Regions from separate parts of the Homo sapiens genome. Here regions 2 and 3 are each reported to be linked to region 1. The links are microRNA targets in miRTarBase. Many come from high-throughput screens and were not tested one by one. Region 1 holds a microRNA gene; each other region holds the end of a gene's coding sequence.
The links. The annotated mature microRNA hsa-miR-454-5p reads ACCCUAUCAAUAUUGUCUCUGC and lies in region 1 at 1,233-1,254, opposite strand. An mRNA with a match to its seed (bases 2 to 7 or 8) in the 3' UTR can be bound and repressed. Matches are read on the target gene's strand: a 7mer-m8 pairs with bases 2 to 8, a 7mer-A1 pairs with bases 2 to 7 and ends in A, and an 8mer does both.

Region 1 (4,000 bases):
TGGAGTGCAGTGGCACAATCTTGGCTGACTGCAACCTCCACTTCCCGGGTTCAAGCGATTCTCCTGCCTCATCCTCCCGAGCGGATGGGACTATAGGCGTGCACCACCATACCCAGCTAAGTTTTGTATTTTTAGTACAGACAGGGTTTCACCATGTTGGCCAGGCTCGTCTTGATCTCCTGACCTTGTGATCCGCCCTCCTCGGCCTCCAAAAATGCTGGGATTACAGGTGTGAGCTACCACGCCCAGCCGAAAAATCATCTTAAATGTCTGCTCTGAACCCTTCATTTTATAAATGAGAAAATAGCAAAGTAACTTGCCTCTAGTTCTATTTCCATTACTGTTTTCTTATGTAGTTAGACAAAGTTATAGATGATATTTAAGCCATTAAGAGTCACACATGTGGAAAAAATGTAAATTCTTTTTTTTCTTTTTGAGACAGGGTCTTGCTTTGTTGCCCAGGCGAGTGCAGTGGCACAAATCACAGCTCACTGCAGCCTCAACCTCCTGGACTCAAGAGATTTGATTCTCCTGCCTAAGCCTCCTGAGTAGCTGGGACTACAGACGTGCACTACCAAACCCAGCTAATTTTTGTATTTTTTTGTAGAGACAAGGTCTCGCTATGTTACCCAGGCTGGACTTGAACTCCTGAGCTCAAACAATCTTCCCGCCTTAGCCTCTCAAAGTGCTGGAACTACAGGTGTCAGCCACCACACCCATCCAAAAATGTACATTCTTCACCTAAAATTAAAGTTTTTTTATGTTTTAAATTAATATCACTAAAGTTACAAAGCTAGTCAACTAAAAATTCCCTCTGAACACAACATGGTAGTATGGTACAGAAAAATAAAAGAATTCGGATACATGGTAGAAATTCTAGTCCTAGTATCACTAACCAGCTATGTGTCCCTAGGTTAAGTCCCTCATTTCTTTGGGTCTCTCCTATCAAATGAGTTGGAATCTAAGATCCTTTTCAATACTAAAATTCCATTATTTCTTTATACTACAAATAAACCCATTTGTCAAAAAGAAAAGTTACCTTCTTCTAATAAATTAAAAATTTACATTTAAGCCTCAGATTTTAATGTTTATAGTGAAATCTAGTTCCTTGTTTTCTTCCTAAAGATGACTTTTGCTTGTTTCTGCTACATACTTTCTGCAGCCTGCCCATTGTTCTTTCCAAACACCAAAACCCTATAAGCAATATTGCACTACTCAGAACTATTTACACAGCAGAGACAATATTGATAGGGTTCTAGGATCTGGTGATAAACAGAATTTTTTTTAGTTAGATGGCAGAAATTCACTAAGCAATTATGATAATCTAAAACTCATTAGTGTCTGATAAATCGCGCAAATTTGATTCTGATAAACATCATTCACAGCCCTTTCAGTTACAAATCAGCCTCCTGGAAGCCTTGGAAATCAGTGAGGTTATTGTTTAACTTTTTAGGGGCAATGGAATATTTAAAATAAAACTAGTGATTTTTGTAAAGCCCAAGATATTCGTATTTCAGAAACCAGTTTTCTCTAAAATCAGTAATAAAAATAAAGGGGAAAAGTTTTATACTGATCTGAAAAGTGGTATATAAAATACAAAATTAGGTGAAAAAAGTCTATGGAAATCATCATGAAAGCACCCCAAGGGAAACCAGGTTACATTCTGCCAGTTAGATTTCTGATTTTTTCCTCCTATTTTGGAATATTTGCATAATAATTACTGGTTGAGCATCCCTAATCTGAAAATTCAAAATCTGAAATGGTCCAATGAATTTTGGATTTTGGAGCATTTCAGATTTTGGAATTTTGGATTAGGGATGCTCAACCAGTTGTTTTGTTTGTTTGTTATTTTTTGAGACAGCGTCTCACTCTGTTGCCTAGGCTGGAGGGCAGTGGCGCAATCTCAGCTCACTGCAACCTCTGCCTCCAGGCTCAAGCAATTCTCATGCCTCAGCCTCCCGACTAGCTGGGACTACAGGCACACGCCACAACGCCTAGTAAATTTTTTGTATTTTTGGTAGAGATGGGGTTTCACCATTTTGCCCAGACTAGTCTTGACCTCCCGAGCTCAAGTGATCTGCCCGCCTCGGCCTCCTGAAGTGCTGGGATTACAGGCATGAGCCACCGCGCCCAGCCTGTTCTAGTCTAGTTTTCAATATGACCAGTTTAAGGCTTTAAGTAAGTGGCACAAGGTATTCCATACTACTCAACTATTAGGCAGCAAGGAGAAAAGAATATATTGCGGTTGTCACAATATACTGTGTGGTCCTCAGTTTTAAAACACTTGCTTTTTACAAACAACCCCTAGATTCTCATTGCCACCGTATGCTCTCCTACAAAGGACCAGTGCCCTTAAAGCTCTAAACACATCCTCTTATGAGAGACCTTATCTCAACAGCATTAAATTACATAAAGTGAAAAAAAGTATTTCAGTCTCACCTATGGTGGGCTAGGCATAGAGAAGAGTTGGTAGACAGGTGTGTTCTGGACTTACTAAACAGGCTTAGAAATGCATTTTCCGGCTGGGCGCAGTGGCTCACGCCTGTAATCCCAGCACTTTGGGAGGCTGAGGCGGGCGGAGCACGAGGTCAGGAGATTGAGACCATCCTGGCTAACACGGTGAAACCCCGTCTCTACTAAAAATTCAAAAAATTAGCTGGGCATGGTGGTGGATGCCTATAGTTCCAGATACTCGGGAGGCTGGAGCAGGAGAATGGCATAAACCTGGGAGGCAGAGGTTGCAGAGAGCCGAGATGGCGCCACTGCACTCCAGCCTGGGCAACAGAGCAAGACTCCGTCTCAAAAAAAAAAAAAAAAAAAAAAGAAATGCATTTTCCATAGAAACATTTTAAGGGAGAATTAAGTATCTTAATGGAACTAGTTTGGCTATAATCAAAAAACCTACTTTTATTTTTATTTTTAAATTTTTTTTGTTTTTGAGATGAGTGCTCACTATGTTGCCCAGGCTAGTCTCGAAATCCTGAGCTCACGTAATCTGCCCGCCTTGGCCTCCCAAAGTGCTAGGATTACAGGTGTCAGCCACTGCACCCGGCCAGAATCTACTTTTTGTACATTTTCTTCTCTTCAATGTACATTTAGAAACACCTTTATCTACTCTCCTTTTACTTTGTTCATGGCTTTGGTTTACCATCTACTGTATTATATTTTAATCTATGTTTACATGGTAATGTCGCCACATGGTTTCAAACATCTTCCTGGCAAGAGATCGCTTTTTTGTATCCTTAGTTTTTAATATACAGCCTAATGTGCAGTGACAAAAGGGAATAGATGAAAGAACAAACATTCATTCATTTGAAAGAACAAACCACCTGGGAACCCAACTACCCTTTAAAACACGTTTTAAGGGAAATATTTCAAGTTCCCAGCAAGCTAAGGACCACTTATATCATGTCTCCACAATCAAAATTGGTTTTTGCCTTTTTCTGCTGGAGAAAGTATTGACTATTACCCATTCTCTCTTCCAAACAGAACAAATGCATGACTATGCTTGTCCAAAACAGATAAGCAGTAACATGCCCTAACACCAGGTCACAGACATGTTATTTCAGGCAATTGGCAACCAGAGGGGATAAAAGTGAGCAAGGGCTTCAGGTTCATCAGTTCCCAATCTGCAAGCTTTTTTTTTTTTTTGAGATGAAGTCTCGCTCTTGTCCCCCAGGCTGAAGTGCAATGGCACGATCTCAGCTCACTGGGTTCAAGCCTCCTGGGTTCAAGCGATTCTCCTGCCTCAGCCTCCCGAGTAGCTGGGATTACAGACACCTGCCACCATGCCTGGCTAATTTTTGTATTTTTAGTAGAGACGGGGTTTCACCATGTTGGCCAGGCTGGTCTCGAACTCCTGACCTCAGGTGATCCGCCTGCCTCAGCCTCCCAAAGTGCTGGGATTACAGGTGTGAGCCACTGCGCCCGGCCCAATCTGCAGGCTTTTATGGAACAATTGCTAGGATATATACATAAGCCCCTGCCTCTAAAAGGCTAG
Region 2 (4,356 bases), not on the chromosome of region 1:
TTCAAGCTATATAATTGTAATGAAGATCTATTGAACTAGTATGTAAAAACATTTTTTTTTAGGTCATATAAATAAAGTTTGTTGACACCAAGGATACATAATCCTTTAGTGACATTATGTTAAAGTCACTTAAACTGTTATGTTAAACTCATTTATTCACATTTGCAGAAACTAATGTAAGATTTTTCTTATGCTCATGTGAATAGGAAATGGGCAAATATGTGTATATATATTGTTTTGGAATACTCATGAATGAGTTTGACTTTATGGAATTTTTAAATTATTACAATTATAATAATTCATTTCACCTTCAGATAGGAAAGAACTGCAAACCAAACATGATCCTTTCTTAGGGCAAAGAATAACTATGTAATTGTCCAGGAAAAGTTTGTTATAAGTCTCAAGTTATAAAACATAATGCTTTAGAAGTCTTATAAACAATGTATTTCAAGCCTTTCAGCTTGAGAATACCCTCTTAGGCACATTTTATTCTAATATAGTCTAAAACTGACTTTTAAAATTTTGTAACATACTATTTTTAATTTTTAGGCAAAAGAAAAACAGAACGCAAAGAAAGCTCAGGAAACCAAATGAAGATGTTTTCAGATATGTACACATTTCTGCTTCTGCACATATTTTCATGGAAACCATTATGTATAAAGAACTTAGAGCAACATCCTAATTGGCTCAGTGCACGTTTGGCAATAGTGCCAGCCTGTCTTGTCTTTAATGCATGGATTCATAAACTTCTTCCCTACCTGCATCATGTGCATGTAGTGCATATTAAATGAAAGTGATATTAAGAATGCTTTCCCAAATTCCATTATTTGACATTGAGTCTGACAACTGTTAGTTTTCTGGTTGTCTAACTACCATATGAAGCTAGAAAATGCACAAACGATATTCCTTATCTGTAATTTAAATACTTAAAATTTGCAATTGTCAGATCTTGATTAAACTGGTTGTCTTATTTCTTCTCATCATTAACGGAAAAAAAATCAGTATTTCTATCTTTGATATCTAAGTGTTTTGAGGATTTTAAAACTGAATTTTATCTGCTATACCAGTTATTTGAGAAAGTATGATTTTAATGTAAATCATTTAAAAAGGACAAAAGTATAATTTCCAGTGATTTTCACTGCTGTCAGTAGAAAAGTAATAAACATCTCAATTTTATTTTAGTAAATTTTCTTCAAGTGTTTGGGGTTATTTGTTTATGTATTAGAGAATTGTTTCAGGAAGGTCTGAGTATTATGCTTCAAAGCAAAATTTCAGGTTAAGAAGAAATTGTAAATCTTAAAGAATGTTGGTGTTACTCTCAATGGAATATTGTTTCAAGCTTGTAAGCTGTGTATAAAAAAACTGGAGGTCTGACAGTTCATGTTATCTGCTTTTTTAAAAAGATGGTAGTGGTGATGGGGGTCTTTCTATGCCAATTTGAATAAATTTCGTACAGCCTGCAGTTTTCAAGAGCCATATGTAATTTGCTCACAATTGATTTTTAAAAATTGATTTGGGAGTTGCTTTGTAATAATCTTCTGCTTCTAATCTTCCTTTGCAAGTCAGACTTTAAAGAAGACTTTATAAAGCTTTCTTTTTTAAAGGAAGTAACCTACTTTTTTCTTTATCAAGAATATTTCTGAGGTTGATACATGACTTTAACATTTTATTATTTATTGTAAAATCAATTTAGCATAATTTATTTTATTAGGGAGAATGTGTACCCATCTTCCAGCTTCAGCACATTTTTAAGGATTGTTTTTAAGCTTAGTAATTGTGGTATTAAATGACTTAGAACTAATGGAGAAAAACCTGATAGGAAATTGATAGAAAAACGAATGAAATATTTTTCATACATAATTTCAGTTGGAGGTAATGGAAAATATGTAGTCTCTCAGTTATTTGTGGGTAAATATGTTTTGCTGTTGATACAGTAATAATTATGGAGTGTTTTCAAAGCCATGATATAATTTTTAAAAATAGATTTTTAAGGAAGGCTCATCTTGATCTCATTCGTTTATTTCAGCTTAATTTATATATTCTTTCCTATTGAGGCTTAAATTTTGTTAAGCAATGTGAGGATTATTGTGGTAAGTTGTATTTAGTAATCAATACAGTGTGATACTGGCACTAGGATTGACAAATAAAGCAATGGAACAGAAGAGAGAGCCTGAAAACAGATCAACGTTTATATGATCACTTGATTTCGACAAAGGTGGCAAAACAATTCAACAGAGAAGGAAAGTCTTTTCAACAAATGGAGCCAGAATAGAATAGCTGAATATCCATATAGAAAAAAGTGAACAATGACCCCCTACCTCACAAAAATGACTTTGAGATGAATCATAGACCTAAATGTAATATTTTAAAAGTATGAAGCTTTTTAACTGAAAACAGATGATATTTTTGTGACTTGGGGGGTTAGCCAAAGGTTTCTTAGGTCACAGAAAGCAGTAACCATAAAAGATCCAAAATTAGAGCTCATCAGAATTGTCATTGAAAGTGTTAACAAAAGTAATATCAAATGACATTTGAAAAATATCCTTGTAAAATGACTATATTAATAGGTATAAGGATTTTTCTTATTAATCTAATAAAATTCCTTAATAGGAATTTCCATAGCTTAAGAGTGGTTTATTTTATCTGCATCTTCTTTGGTGATTGCAAATCCCTTGTGATACTTCATGATTACTTCTGTCTGTGAATAAAGAAGTGTGACTTGTCTGGGTGCTATATGTTGCTGGTTTGAAATTAAGTCATGAAGCTAGAGGGTAGAGAAAATGGAAGAATAAAGAGCAACCCATAAATAGATAAATGCTATTTGGAAAGTTTTTTTTAAATGATATTTTATAGAAAATCTTGCTCATTTCATATTTAGTCTTTTCTAAAATTTTATTTAATTATTGGGTAGGTGAAGTCGCTTCCATTCTATTTTAAGCCTTCAAAATAGCCAATTCTAAGGGATGTACTTCTGTTATTATCAACAAAAACCTTGCCAACAGCTGCGGCACTGGCTACTCTCACCTTATATGTTTAGTTCCCAAGATAGCTTGCCCTTTTCCGAACAGCAGTCAGCTCGACTGTGCCACTAAAACAGACAAATATTTGCTCGGGAATCACAACCACGGGGACTTGCTCCCCCAGTTAGGACCATGGTACATATTTGTGTGTATATTATGGTGTTACATGCAGATTAATACTTTCAATTAATCCTCCTAGTTGCCTGTAACGTTAACATTTCAAGATGCATTTAGATATTTTTATCCTGTAGGAGGATTTTGTTTATTTGAGGGAAAAAAAGGGCTTTTAATGTATTCTCCTCAAAAACCATTTAGAGAAAACAGATAAGTAAAAATAAAATTTAAATTACCATATTTCTATTTACAGGGATGAGCACATTAACATTTTATGTATTTAGTGATCCTTTTTCCTCATGTGTACACATATGTTTTTGTGTGTTAGTCTTGCTTGCCCTCCCCATAGTCTGAAATAGTTCTATGAAGTTTATATTATTTTTAAACTTGATCATATACAAATTTTCAGGAAACAAACCACTCTAGCTATTTGAAGAGGAATGCAGATTTATATTGGGAGTTTTGAAACTACATAGTTTCTTACAAAATCATTGGAAGGTTTGGAGGAGCGGTTTCAAGCTTAAGTCTCCAGAGATTACTCCCATCCAAACATACAGTATTGGTGTACCTAGGGAACTGCTCACTTTTGCAACAGTCAGGGAGTTCACTGTTGGAACTATTAATGTTAGAACATGTTGCAGTAGTTGTGTTCAAGGAATGAGGAACCTGCTGTAACACTTAATGACTGTGCACTGGAATGCAGAAAAGTTAAACCTTCTATGCCTAAATGCCTAAAACAGACAAACTGGATAGTTATATTTTTAGAATGATACTGCGTTTTTTAGAGTAGTATGAATTCCTAGATCAGTCAAACATGCATGTTATTTAGTTTGTTCTTTAGTATATTGTTAACTGGCCTAAATCCAATGACTGACATGGTAAAGATTCACCACTTCTAGCATACTGGGCACTTTTTATTTTTGACTTGATTACATTAACTTTTTGAAAACTATTCAGTGATTTATTCAGCCAATCTTATGAGGTACATCTGAGTTGTTCTAGATGCTAGAGGATAGTATAACAGGAAAAAGCCCCTGCTCTCATGGTGAGACAGATAATAAGTATGTAATACAACTTTTCAAATAGTAGTATGAATGGTAAAAAAAATAGGGAAAAGGGGTGGGAGGAGCTGAGGTTTGATAGAATGGTCATGGAAGATCCCATTAATGAGATGTACTTTAAGTAGAGACCTAAATGAAGATAATTTTTTCTCTAGTACTGA
Region 3 (4,356 bases), not on the chromosome of region 1:
TGCCCAGCTGGTGCTCACCACCATCCTGGAAATCTTCATCACAGGTACCTTCCTGGCGAAGATTGCCCGGCCCAAGAAGCGGGCTGAGACCATTCGTTTCAGCCAGCATGCAGTTGTGGCCTCCCACAATGGCAAGCCCTGCCTCATGATCCGAGTTGCCAATATGCGCAAAAGCCTCCTCATTGGCTGCCAGGTGACAGGAAAACTGCTTCAGACCCACCAAACCAAGGAAGGGGAGAACATCCGGCTCAACCAGGTCAATGTGACTTTCCAAGTAGACACAGCCTCTGACAGCCCCTTCCTTATTCTACCCCTTACCTTCTATCATGTGGTAGATGAGACCAGTCCCTTGAAAGATCTCCCTCTTCGCAGTGGTGAGGGTGACTTTGAGCTGGTGCTGATCCTAAGTGGGACAGTGGAGTCCACCAGTGCCACCTGTCAGGTGCGCACTTCCTACCTGCCAGAGGAGATCCTTTGGGGCTACGAGTTCACACCTGCCATCTCACTGTCAGCCAGTGGTAAATACATAGCTGACTTTAGCCTTTTTGACCAAGTTGTGAAAGTGGCCTCTCCTAGTGGCCTCCGTGACAGCACTGTACGCTACGGAGACCCTGAAAAGCTCAAGTTGGAGGAGTCATTAAGGGAGCAAGCTGAGAAGGAGGGCAGTGCCCTTAGTGTGCGCATCAGCAATGTCTGATGACCTGTTCCCACTCCCCCATTCCTCTGGTCTCTTTTCCTCTCTTCCAATGCCCTGGTAAGGAATACTACCCGGGTTTACTGGAGATCCCCCGAAGCACCCATCCTCCACTCCCTCTTCTTTAACCCAGTGGCCTGTTGGTAGCTTAGGCCAACTGGAGTCCAGGTTCGCCTCCCACTGTCCCCTTTCCACTTCCCCAGCTTCTGCCCCAATACACATACCTCCCTTAAGCCAGGATGGGGGAAAGAGTGGGATTAGGCTGAAGTGGCTTAGAAGGCCTCAGCCATGCTTGGATACTCACATTAGGAGGACCATGTGGTTGGAAGGATAGACTGCCCCCTACCTCCCACCACCACCATGAAGTTTGGTGACTTGAGGCTGGAGCTCCCTCTGTTACCTTTCCATCTAGCAAGTTCCCAAAGGCAAGACTCTCTCTGATGGTCACTTTGTGGTCTGTGCTTTCAGAAATACAGGAATCTGATATCAACATATCCTAGGGTTTCTACCAATCTCTGTTGAAAGAAGCCAGGGTTTGCCACTGTGAAGCTTGATTTCTGCTGGTGACTTCTGACCATAAGCTAGAACCATGGTCGCCACTGTTTTCCCTCTGTAGTTTCTCAAGTGAACACTCTCAGGATACCCAGTTCCCTCATAGCCTCTGTTCTCAGAGAATTGGAGTTGGCCCAAGAAACATAAACATATAACCACCCATATCTATCCTGGATTCTGAACTCTTCAATTTGGAGTGACTAACACAAGTTGTTATCTAAACCTTTAAACCTATCTTCCAGGCAGCCCAGAGAAGATCTGTTTCCCTGTGTCCTGTGAATGGAAGGACCCAAGCCAATATGTTCCTTTGAAAAGAGTCCAGTACCCAGGCCCCATGGAAAGGTCTGAAAATAATATTCCAGATTACACTGTACCTGGCTTCTCTTCTTCCTTTCCTGCTCAGCCTAGATCCTTCTTCCTTAACCCCAACTCTTTGGGAGAAGGGAGGGAAAATGCAAGGGCCTTCCTCTCTTAACACGGATGCTCAAGTAAAACTAGATTCACAGGGCACAGATTCCCCAGAAAGTTAACACAATCCCACCATGAGGGATGGGTAAATTCTCAGATTTCCAAACTGCTGTACAGAGCCTCTGAGAATTGGTGATGCTTTGTTAAGGTTTGGGCAGGAGCAGAACTCTGTGGCTGGCAGCCACTATTCTCAGTTACACCTCCCAGTGCCCTTCTGAAAAGTGCCAGCTATTTCATTAGGCAATGCTGGAAGGAAATGAAATTATACCTTCTGATCAAATAACCATGGCTTCCCTCAGCCATTCCTGAGACTTGGTATAAAATGAAGAAATCAGTGTCATCTCTACTCTCCTCTGCCATGAGGCCATTTTCAGACAAGTTAAAAAGTAGACTTTAAGAGATCAAACTCAGCCTATTCCTTGTTCCCTGGTGGGGTCTGTGGTAAGGGTCAGGGAAGGGCATATAGGCACCAGAGCTTTATCCAAAGCCCCAAATCCCTAGAGTGCTTTCTGGTCTCACTTTGGTACCAAGGAAGCCTCACATAGTGGTACTGCATAGTCCCACTATAAGTCAAGTTGCAGTTTAAGGTGGTCTCAGCCAATTGTTACAAGCTACAGAATATATACATGCATCTATGTACAGAGCCTTGCAGAGAAACACAAAATTTTGAGGCTAGACCCATGATCACCACCAACTATAATTGCACAAGGTCTTGTTATATTGATCTCTCCTCGAACTCAACTAACTATATCTTGAAAACAAAGACCCTTCGGTGTCCATCTACAGTAAACCCCACCATTACCTTCTAGTTGGCATAAAAACAAGAACCACAAAAACTTGAAAAATCTGAAACAGAGAACAGAAGGCCAAGAGCCAGCTTCTGCGTTCTCAACTTTATTCAACATTAGACTTACCTTATTTCTTTCAGTGTGTAGGGACAAGATGTACTGCTGTGTGTGTGTGTGTGTGTGTGTGTGTGTGTGTGTGTGTGTGTGTGTGTGTCTATACCTTCCTATCCATTGCCAAGTTAACCTCCATCTGGTTTATTTGGCCATGCTATGCTTTCTTCCCATTCCCCTGCTGTCTATTCTAAGCCCCCAGACTCAAGCCTCTAGACTCTTGGATGAAACAGTGAGAAGAAAACATTTTCTGACTTACCCTTTTGGAATCTCCTCCATTATTACCCAGGCTTTGCTTTAAGTTGCACTTTAAATCACACTGTCCTATTAATGCGATCTGGCATCTTCTCCCACAAGCCCCCTACAGGGAACAACTACCCCCTACCTTAACTCTAAATGGTTCTTTAGACTATAGTCTGTCTCCTCTGACCTGAAATCCTCTTTTAGGCAATAGGCCGAGCTTTAGAAGCAGCCAGGTCTGGTGAGAAATGGGCCCCCATACCAACTGTGGACTTGGAATATCAGCAGAGTAGTAGGCACAGTTGTAAAAAGGGGAGATTTCGGTAGGCACAGGTGTAAAAAGGGGAGATTTCAGAAGACGGGCGAAACAACTGATGGGGGAAGATACCTGGGGTGAGAAGATGAGAAAGAAATGATGCTGAGGGACCTAGTGAAATCAATGAAACTCTTGAGTCTTGCTTAGGCTCGCAAACAAGAAGTGGGGAGGCTTGGGAAATTAGGATATGACATATATGAAAGGTTTATCTAAGAAGAAAGAAACAGAGATAATATATATATAGAAAGATGTATATAGATGTATATATGCCCAAATATATTGAATGTACAGAAAGGAAATATTCAGAGACTTTAGCATTGGGGGCAGATATCTTGGCCTGGTTATGGGGTAGGACACCCAGATTTTCAGACTTACAATCAGTGGTCCTGGTTTCAACATGGAAGTGAGATAGCTGATGAAGGATTTCAAGTCTGGAAATGGGAAAGGGAGGGGTAGAAGTTCCTTTTCAGAAATAAAGAGGCATTCATGAAGGCTTTTGTTGAATCCTATGCTACTGATAGGACCAGGAAGAGAGGAACTCGGAGGACAATAGGGAGGGGAAGTCTTGGAAAATCTACCACTTACACTGTGTGTCCCCATCCCCAGCAGCGTCCTGCCACTGTAGCGCCTTTTTAAAATAAATAAAATAAAATAAAGCACCATTTTGTTTCCCTTTCATGAAGTACACTGTATTTCCGTCTTCCACAGGGGTGGGAGCTGCTATTGCTCTAGCCCCTGAAATCAAACTCAGGAGCTGAACACTTTGGTGTATGGGAGGCACTAATGGGAAGCCTCAACCCTGGAATCCAAATGCCAGGACTAATAGCTGTTAGGCTGAAGATCTCCCAAGGTCAAGGCCCAGCCTTTTGTGTGGCTGCAAGCAGCCCAAAGAGAAAGCCATGGATTCCAGAAGAGTTCCAATCCTGGCATTTGGGCATGGAGGGTGATGCTTTGGTTTTGATGCTTCTGAATGAAAATGAGGAGTGGGGTTACCAGCTGCTCTAGGGGATGGTGAAGTTCCATGAGAGGCTTCCGAAATCTCTGCAATGTGCTTCACCCCATTATTCCCCCAACCCCTGTCAGCCTAATAAAATCATCCAGTAGTTTCCCTATAAGGTCTGAGCAGAGAAAGAAAGCCAGTTATACTATTGCTACAAGTCCAGGACACTGTGCCCTCTCCATGGCTG

Region 2: miRTarBase lists UCHL5 as a target of hsa-miR-454-5p. Seed matches in the 3' UTR shown: 7mer-A1 at 4,241-4,247.
Region 3: miRTarBase lists KCNJ10 as a target of hsa-miR-454-5p. Seed matches in the 3' UTR shown: 7mer-A1 at 3,719-3,725.

Annotation. Positions count from the first base shown.
Region 1 is chr17:59,136,596-59,140,595 of GRCh38, forward strand. It overlaps MIR454 (microRNA 454), which reads right to left and starts at 1,277; the gene lies at 1,163-1,277. The region is part of intron 1 of SKA2 (spindle and kinetochore associated complex subunit 2); the gene reads right to left.
Region 2 is chr1:193,012,589-193,016,944 of GRCh38, reverse strand. It overlaps UCHL5 (ubiquitin C-terminal hydrolase L5), which reads left to right. Exons shown (of 11, transcript NM_001199261.3): 11 at 550-4,356. The coding sequence ends at 594. Among named protein-coding and RNA genes, the nearest start is that of UCHL5, 45 kb to the left of the region's middle.
Region 3 is chr1:160,037,734-160,042,089 of GRCh38, reverse strand. KCNJ10 (potassium inwardly rectifying channel subfamily J member 10) reads left to right here. Exons shown (of 2, transcript NM_002241.5): 2 at 1-4,356. The coding sequence ends at 697. Among named protein-coding and RNA genes, the nearest start is that of PIGM, 7.9 kb to the right of the region's middle.